2 separate regions of the Homo sapiens genome follow, and region 1 is linked to region 2. Evidence: fine-mapped expression QTL. A gene starts in region 2. The other region holds a variant in brackets. All regions are shown on one strand. Distances are between the middles of the regions.

Region 1 (4,386 bases), 83 kb before region 2:
TCACCCTGCTCTGCAATGGAGAATTTCTAATAAACTTGCTTCTTTCACTGCATTCTGTGATTCACCTTGAATTCCTCCCTATGTGAGATCTGAAAACCCTCTCCTGGGGTCTGGATCGGGACCTTTTTTCTGTTAACAAGATGATAGCTTCACTTTCTGGCTAAAGAGTCAGGGCCACGGACAAGAAGCCAAGTCCCGTTGTAAGTTTGAGTGGTCATTACCAAGATTTGAGCTGAAGAGAGGTCAAAAGTTGTTGCAAATTACACCCAGGATTTGTTTTAACATGCAACATGAAAATTGCTGTCATGAGGGAAGAAGTTTTTTATATTCACAGACCCCTAGAAAGAGGAAGTACGGCACACCACGCAGGGTCACATGGGGAGGCACCAGGGTGGGTCAGGAGGGGGAGGGAGAGAGGCTGGAAACACCAGCAAGAGCCTTTATTGTGGTTTCCATGGTAACGGCCAGGCAAGGCAGGGCGAGCAGGCTGAGGACTGCCAGTGGGCTCTGCAGCATAGGAGCTGCCCCTAGTTTCCTCATACCTGGCCCTAGGGTAGTTAGGGCAGAGGCCCGGAGTTTCATCCTCTGTCATAGAGACAGGTGGGGGTGTGGACCTTGGATTGGCTGGTTTCCAATATGGAAGGCACACTTGCAGGCAAGTGGTTACCATCTCCAGGAATTAGCTGGCCCCGGGAAAGGTGGTCTCTCCAAGATCAGCAAGGCCGCAGATGCCAAATCATCAGCAAATACAGAAAATAAAACAACGTGAGGAATACAAAAGTTTCAGTTCAACATGGGAACTGAGGATCATGAAACAAGGATAGTCAAAGTGCTGGCAAATTGGAAGGGAAGAAATGGTTATATGGGAGTTAGCCAGACATGGTGGCACACACCTGTGGTCCCAGGTACTATGGAGGCTAAGACAGGAGGATACCTTGGGCCCAGGAGCTCAAGGCTGCAGTCAGCTACAATCACACCACTGCACTCCAGCCTGGGCAACAGAGAAAGACCCTGCCTTTAAAAAATAAATTATAAAAATAAAATAAAATAAATGGTTATATGAGGACCTACTAGTTCTTTAACAAGGACCTCTGGGGATGCTTTAAGGCTGCCCACAAACAGGCTGACTTTAGCCTTCTAGTGTCTTATGTCTAATGTCTTAAAGGCAAACCTTCATGTAGTTTAGAAACAGAAAATGGTCTTCCCAGCTAGAACATTTTGTCTCCCCAGCTCATGGAACACAAAAATAAAGGCAAATGTCTGTGCAAAGAATTTTTTTTTAATGAGTGAATTTATGTGAAAAACTTGACAAAGATATACAATTTAAATCACATTTAACTGGTACATTTAGCAATTCATCTCCATTCCAATGAATAAAATAACAACCATCTGAGCTATTCCAGAAAAACCCTGCAAGGCAGCCTGCTCCTCTGCGTGCGGGGACGTCTGCTTTCCATTAGGTTGAGGATAGATCCAGCTCCCCCTGCTGATGCACTTCCAAGGAAAAGGCAGACGAAGGGAGAGGCTGCCAGGCTGGCAGAAGGGCACATGTACAGGATGGCCATGTGCAAATCCACCCAAGTGGACCAGCCATATTCCCTGCAATCTCTGATGCAGCCAAGTCCAGCTGAGACATTAAACAGAGTCCGTGGTGACAGGAAGCTGAGGCTGCCTAGAGCCAATGC[G/C]TCTGGTGTAATTGAAAAGGTCTTTGGCCAGTGGCACTGGGGGCAACAAGTGCCGTCCTCTGAGATGGCTGAGGCCATTCCTCCACCCCCTTCCTCTGCGGTCTTGGCAACTGCACTTGCTCCAGCACAAAGAAACGCTGAAGCTGCAGGACGGTAGTGACCCAAAAGAAAGAAGGGTACCGTCAATTCCTTCTCAGCTTCCCATCAGGACAGAGGCATCGAAGCCACTGGCTATGGGTTCCCATCCATTGTTGTAACCATCAAACATGAGCACACTCCCTCCAAGCCAGGAACTGGGCAACGTGCTGTGTGCATAACCCAGCTATGTGCTGGTGATGCCAAGAAAAACCCCAGGCTGCCCTTTCATAAGGTCAGCACCCAAGACCCGGGCGAAGAAGGAAGGAGAGCAAGGAGTCTCCCAAAACCAGCAATCACTTCTCGCTGGTTGGACCGGACAGTGCTGGGAGTGGAAACAAGACACATCCTCTCCACTCTCAGGAATTCAGTCTAGTGAGGAAGCCAAGGAAGGAATGCAAACAAACACTTCTGAGCCGACGTGGTGTGTACAGTGAGAGGAGTGTGGATTTAGCATAGAAATAGCACAGTGGGGCATTTGAGCTGCATTTTAAAGCATAGAAAGGATTTCAGCAGAGCAGGGAGGAGAGAGAATTGATGATCCAGCCAGAGGAGCACAGTGTGCACAGGCAGGGAGGCAGATGCTCAGCACACGCTCAGGAGAGGCAGGGGGCTGACTGCGGCTGGAGGGAAGAAATGCAGGGGCCAAGAGGGTCCCTCTTAATAGTCAGAGGGACCAGGGGGTGGGAGGCCCTGGAAAGCCAGAGAGGAGGTTATGTGCAGTTGGTTCATCCATCAGTCATTTTTTTCTTTTTATTAAAGACGGAGTCTCACTCTGTCACCCAGGCTAGACTGCAGTGGCGCAATCTCGACTCACTGCAACCTCCATCTCCTGGGTTCAAGCAATTCTCCTGTCTCAGCCTCCCAAGTAGCTGGGATTACAGGCACGCACCACGATGCCAAGCTAATTTTTTGTATTTTTAGTAGAGATGGGGGTTTCACTATGTTGGCCAGGCTGGTCTCGAACTCCTGACCTCTGGTGATCCACCTGCCCTGGCCTCTCAAATTGCTGGGATTACAGGTGTCAGCCACCGTGCCCAGCCCATCAGTTATTTTTGAATTAGGGGCATGAGGTCAGAGCTGCACTTTGGGAGATCTCTCTGGCCACATTGGTGAGGTGGGGCAGGAAACTCCAGAGGCAGAAGACGGTCAAGGCCTTGACAATGGTCACACGGGAGGGAGGGACTCCTGCCTAGAGGTGACGGCCCAGGAAATGAGGGCCATGAAAGGAAAGAAGCAGCCAGACTTGGAGCAGGAAAGGGGAGGCCATGGAGAGAGAAAAGCTAGATATGACTTGAGTTTCCAGCACAAAAGACTGAGAAAAGAGTGATTTAATAAGGAGAAAGGAAAGAGGAAGGCAGAAAGGAGGGCTGCTCACAGAGAGGTTCTGAGTTCTGAGAGGTGCCCAAAGGTGGGAGGTTACTGGTAGATGCAGGGCTGGTGCTGCGAGGAGAGGTCACGGTAAGGGACAATCATGACATCCATTGGGACAGCACTTATTTACATGGTCCCCTGGATGCTCCTGCTCATGACACCTGGTGAGGTTGGCTCAAGCTGGTGTCATTTCCACCAGCTGAGCGATAAGAAAACAGGAAGAGTCCTGCTAGAATTAGAGCCTGGGTAAGTGCCCGAGTCATTTACCCAGTGAGCTGAGATCACGCCACTGCACTACAGCTGGAGCGACAGAGCAAGACTAGGTCTCAAAAAAAAAAAAAAAGAATTTGTCAAACGGATGAATAACTAACTGGACCCTCCATGGCGTTCTTCCTTTCCTGAGCTAAGGAAGTTTGTCTTGGACCCCATGGACGGTCCAGTTAGTCATTCACTCATTTGACAGATTTTTTTTTTTTTTTTTGTGAGACAAAGTCTTGCTCTGTCACCCCAGCTGGAGTGCAATGGCATGATCACAGCTCCCTGGAATCTCAACTCCTGGGCTCAAGCAATCCTCCCACCTCAGCCTCCCTAGTAGCTGGAATTACAGGCCCATGCTACTATCACTGGCTAATTTTTTTTTTTTTTTTTTTTGAGACAGAGTCTTGCTCTGTCGCCCAGGCCGGAGTGCAATGGCACGATCTCAGTTCACTGCAAGCTCTGCCTCCTGGGTTCACGCCATTCTCCTGCCTTAGCCTCCCGAGTAACTGGGACTACAGGCGCCACCACCATGCCTGGCTAATTTTTTATTTTGTGTAGAGGTAGGATCTCACTATGTTACCAGGGCTAATCTTGAACTCCTGGGCTCTTTTCCTAATATTTAAAACTTAACAAAAGTCTTTGTTCTTCACTAAGTACCAACAATTGATGTCTATGAAGGAGGTTTCCAATACACCATGTCCATGGCAGCCTCATTCACAATAGCCAAAAGGCAAAAGCAACCCTAGGTCCATCAACAGATGAATAGATGAACAAAATGTGGTTTACCCACCCAATGGAATAGTATTTGGCCTTTAAAAAGGGAGGAAATTCTGACCCATGCCACGACATGGGTGAACTTTGAGGATATTATGCTAAGTGAAGTCAGCCAGACACAAGAGGATGAATATCAAGTGATTATACTTACATGAGGTCC
Region 2 (4,386 bases):
AAAGGAAGATGAAAATCCCTTTGCTTTCAGTGAAATCACGTACACCTACCAAGTATCTTCACTCATAAGAAAACTGTACAATTAAGAAACAATACTAAAAAGAAACAGAAAGGTTGGCCACCTTTGTCAATTAGGTAGAATAACACACTGACAAAATAAGACACACACACCAGCAGGAGGTTCTGCACCACTGAAAAGAAGCCGGTGCGATGGCTCAAGCCTGTAATCCCAGCACTTTGGGAGGCCCAGGCGGGCGGATGACGTGAGGTCAGGAGTTTGAGACCAGCCTGGCCAACATGGTGAGAGACCAACAACCCCCTCTCTACTGAAAATACAAAAATTAGCCTAGCTTGGTGTCGGGCGCCTGTAATCCCAGCTACATGGCGAAACTTCGTCTCTACTAAAAATACAAAAATTAGCTGGGCGGGTGGCAGGCACCTGTAGTCCCAGCTACTCGGGAGGCTGAGGCAGAAGAATCGCTTGAACCTGGGAGGCGGAGGTTGTAGACAGAGCGAGACTCTACCTCAAAAAAAAAAAAAAAAAAAAAAAAATGTCCTCAAAAGAGCAGTAGACAGGCTGAACATGAGAACCTCTGCTTTGCTCCCAGCCGGTTGTGAACTTGGACAAGGCCATTTACTCTAGACCTGTTTCTCTACAGGCAAACAACAGGAGGCAGTTAGCTAGCTCTGAAGTTTCTTCCCATTCTAAAATCTAAGACAGTATGCTAAACATGGGCAAATAACTTAAAATTGCATAGGAATATGTGATACAAGTAACGTTTAAAGACTCATACATTCATCCTAATTTACTGTGGGAAATAATATAACCATCTTACATTCTGGAATATATGACACTTAAAGGTTTTGGGAATTAACCCATCAAAACCTGGAGCAGCAGCATCCATCTTAAAATCTCCAAACTCCATCGCTACCTGGTGAGGGCTGAAACTCTCTTCCCTAAAATAATCTTCAGGCCACACTGGAAGCACCTCCCTCTTACGAAAGATACTGCATGACCTTTAAGCATCCAAGTGGTTTTGAAAAGACTTCATCTGGCCATATGCTCACTGCTCCCATTACCTCTTTCCCAAGAGTTGAATTAAAGAAAGGTTAGGCAAGAACCCTTCCAAGAAGGCTCCCGGTTCTCACGACTAGGAACAATCTGAGGACAAGATGTCTGGGCAGCGGAATGTTATGAAAAGACCCTGGCCTGGGTTGTCTATCAGCCTCGTCCGTTAACTTTCAACTGCCCGAGTGCGTTTTTAATTCCGTTTCTTTAAATGCATGGCCCCAGACTCCCTGACGTGTGCAATCTTGGGTGGTTCAGGAGGCTGCTCTCAGCTTTACTGGGCGCACAACCCATCGCTTTAAAAAAAAAAAAATCACTTGGGCAACTTCGAGAAATCTAATAAAAAAATAAAAAAGGAAAAAGGAGAAGCAAGGCACAGCCTCTCACCCCACACGTGACTGAAGCCAACCCTAGACGAGCAAATGAATTTTCCTGACAAACGTGTGGCAACAAAGGAATGCTCGCTGGGGGGCTCCCGCGCCCGCCAGACGCTGCCCGCCCGCGAGCCCCGCACACCTGATCCCCGACACGTCCCGCGGCAGCCGCCCGCCCCGCCCCGCTCCCGCGCGTCCATCCCCCGGCGTCCCCGCCGCACGTCCCCATCCCGGCCCACGTCCCCTCCGCGGCCCGCTCCGCCCACCCGGCCTCCCCGCCCCCCAGGCCCGCCCCCGCCCCGCCCCGCCCGGCTCCGCTGCTGGGGACCACCCCCCGCACCAGGGGGATCCGCGCTACCCGCGCCGCTCCCGGACCGCGAGCCCAAACGGCCCCGGGCCCAAGACCCCAGGAGGCAACAGAGAGGCCCGGAGCAAGGCAGGCGCCCCTCCTCTTGACAGGGGACGGGAGCTGTCAGTCACCTGGACATCCCATGCCTGAGCCAATGAGCTGCCTTCTCCTCCCGCCTCCCGCGCCGCGCCGGTGGCGGCGGCCGGGGCTGCTCCTCCTCCCCCATCCCCTTCACAGAGCCTCGGCCCCGCACTCACTGTTGAGGCCGGCCGGCGGGGGCAGAGACTGCTCATTTTCCTCGCAGTTGTTGTTGTTGTTGTGCAGGGGCGGCGGCGGCTCGACTAGGTGGGACGACATTGTCGGACAGCTGGCAGGACTGCGGCAGCAGCAGGACCGTCTCCGGCACTCAGGCAGCAACACAACAAGCCGAGTCCGCCGCCCCCTTTTCTGCGCCTGCGCCGTCCCTCCCCTGCCCCTGACGTCAGGGCCCGCCCAGGCCACGTGATGACAACACAACAAGCGACCGGACGGGGCAGGGGCGCTCCCCTGCGGGCCCCGGACGTGGAGACGCTCGAGTCAGGCTGACGCGCGCGCCGGGAACGAACTCTTGCGTGTGACTTGGGATGACCGGATGGGATGAGTGATGCCAGTGGCAGTGGGAGAGAGGATGAGGAGAAACGGAATGAGGAAGTGCGCTCCTGTGTTCGCGCCCGTGCCTCCTCTCACACAGGCTCCACAGTGCTTCACCCAGCCCTGCGCACGCATCTGTTTTCTACCTCTTAGGACTCACTTCTGCAATAGGTGTCTTGGGGACACAAAGGAATCCCCAAACCCAGGTGCCTCCACGTGTAAACTCCAAATAAAGCTGCTGAAACATCAACACTCCATACGGGAAACAAGGGAAGGCCGCCCCCAAATTTAATTGTTACAGAATTTTTAAAATGTCGATTACAAACACACCATCATTCTGAAAAAAAGAGAAAGAAGAAAGGGGAAGAAAGAAAAAAGAAAAATTCAGGAAAACAGAGAGAAGAAAGTACTCACCCAAATCCCATCGACTAATCGATTTCTGGGACATGACGTGGGAAGCCGTTTATCCTGTACGTGGATGACATTAAACTATGTTCCTGAGCACACCTCCTACTTCACATCTCCATGTCTTCGTCCAGTCTCCTTGGTCTGATTTATGAGTGACATATGTTTCTCGCAGTCTCTAACTTGTCTTTTAATTTGTTTTTTTCACTCTGTAGAAGCTTAAGGTTTTCATGTAATCAGATTTATCATTCTTACATGGCTTGGGGAGACAGTCACACCAAGATTACTAATCTATAATTCCCTTATAACTTTTTCTAATTTTCTTATAGGCTTAACTTTACATTTAGAGCTCTAATCCATCTGAAATTTATTTTCCATATGCTGTAAATTATTTAACTTCAATTCTTCCCAATTTTGTAGCCCATTGACCTAATAATATTAATTTTAAGCCATCCTTTCTACACTGATTTGAAATTGCACCTTTGTCACTCTCTGAATGACCACAAAAATGTGAGTCTGTTTCAGGGCTATCTGCAATACCTCTGTTAGATAACTATTAAAGTTTCTCTTCCTTTGTCTTTTTCAGATGTTAATGGCTAGTTACTCTTCAGATGAACTTAAAAATGGACTTGTCCAAGATTGACCTTGTGTTGGTAATTATTGAAGCTATGTAATACATTAAAGTATTCCTCTAATTTTTTAATATATTTGAAAAAGTCCATGCTAAAAGGTTTTTTTTAAGGATTGATTTGTCAAATCCCTTTGCAAATTCTTTTAAGATTTTGGTCAGAAATGAACTCTATTAATAGATTGAGTGCTGTTTCCGGTCATACCCGGAAGCAGGAGTTCAAGCCGCAGCTGGTAGGGATTGGCGGCTGCTGGCCATCTGAGTTTTATTAAAACTGCTCGCCGCGAAGCCAGTCTTCAGCCAGAATGTCCAGCAGAAACAACAACAAGCTGCCCAGCAACCTGACTGCAGTTACAGAATCTGATGAAGCGAGACCCACCACCCTCCATCTAGGAGTTTCTACAGCAGTATAATCACTACACATCCAATGTGGAGATTTTCAAATTGCAACCATATAAACCCGGTAAAGAACTAGCAGAGCTGGTGGTGTTTATGGCACAGAACGTCCTAAATATGTGCATCTGAATAATAGGAGAGAAAGAGAGAAACTTCAGAAGAGCCTTTGCTTTGTTATAGATTAGTTACTGCTACCCAGGGTATCTAAGTAATTTTCCTCAAGTGGTGAAAGATCTTCTGTCCTGTAATCATACTGTATTGGATCCAGATCTTCGAATGACATTTTGCAAAGCTTTGATCTTGCTGAGAAATAAGAATCTCATCAATCCATCAAGCCTGCTAGAACTCTTCTTTGAACTTCTCTGTTGCCATGATAAGCTTCTGCAAAAGACTTCATACACATATATCGTGACTGATATCAAGAATATAAATGCAAAACACAAGAATAAAGTGGATGTAGTATTGTAAAATTTCATGTATACCATGTTGAGAGATAGCAATGCAACTGCAGCCAAGATGTCTTTAGATGTTATGAT

Alleles and levels. Alleles are on the strand shown, and positions count from the first base shown. SD is a standard deviation of normalised expression in the study named.
In carriers of allele G in region 1, the expression in cerebellum of the gene that starts at base 2,225 in region 2 tends to be lower than with C alone (small effect, 0.30 SD a copy in GTEx).

What was found. PIP is the estimated chance that this variant, and not a neighbour inherited with it, causes the effect.
Region 1: its variant is the best candidate, but not a certain one, in a credible set for the expression of BNIP3L in cerebellum (GTEx, PIP 0.85).

The regions. Positions count from the first base shown.
Region 1 is chr8:26,463,551-26,467,936 of GRCh38, reverse strand. No RefSeq gene overlaps it. Among named protein-coding and RNA genes, the nearest start is that of PNMA2, 48 kb to the left of the region's middle. RefSeq lists an enhancer at 285-334. The variant G/C (reference allele first, on the strand shown) is at 1,686.
Region 2 is chr8:26,380,893-26,385,278 of GRCh38, reverse strand. BNIP3L (BCL2 interacting protein 3 like) reads right to left here and starts at 2,225. Exons shown (of 6, transcript NM_004331.3): 1 at 2,049-2,225. The coding sequence starts at 2,148. It also overlaps the pseudogene SDAD1P1. RefSeq lists a silencer at 1,476-2,065 and enhancers at 2,276-2,575, 2,549-3,748.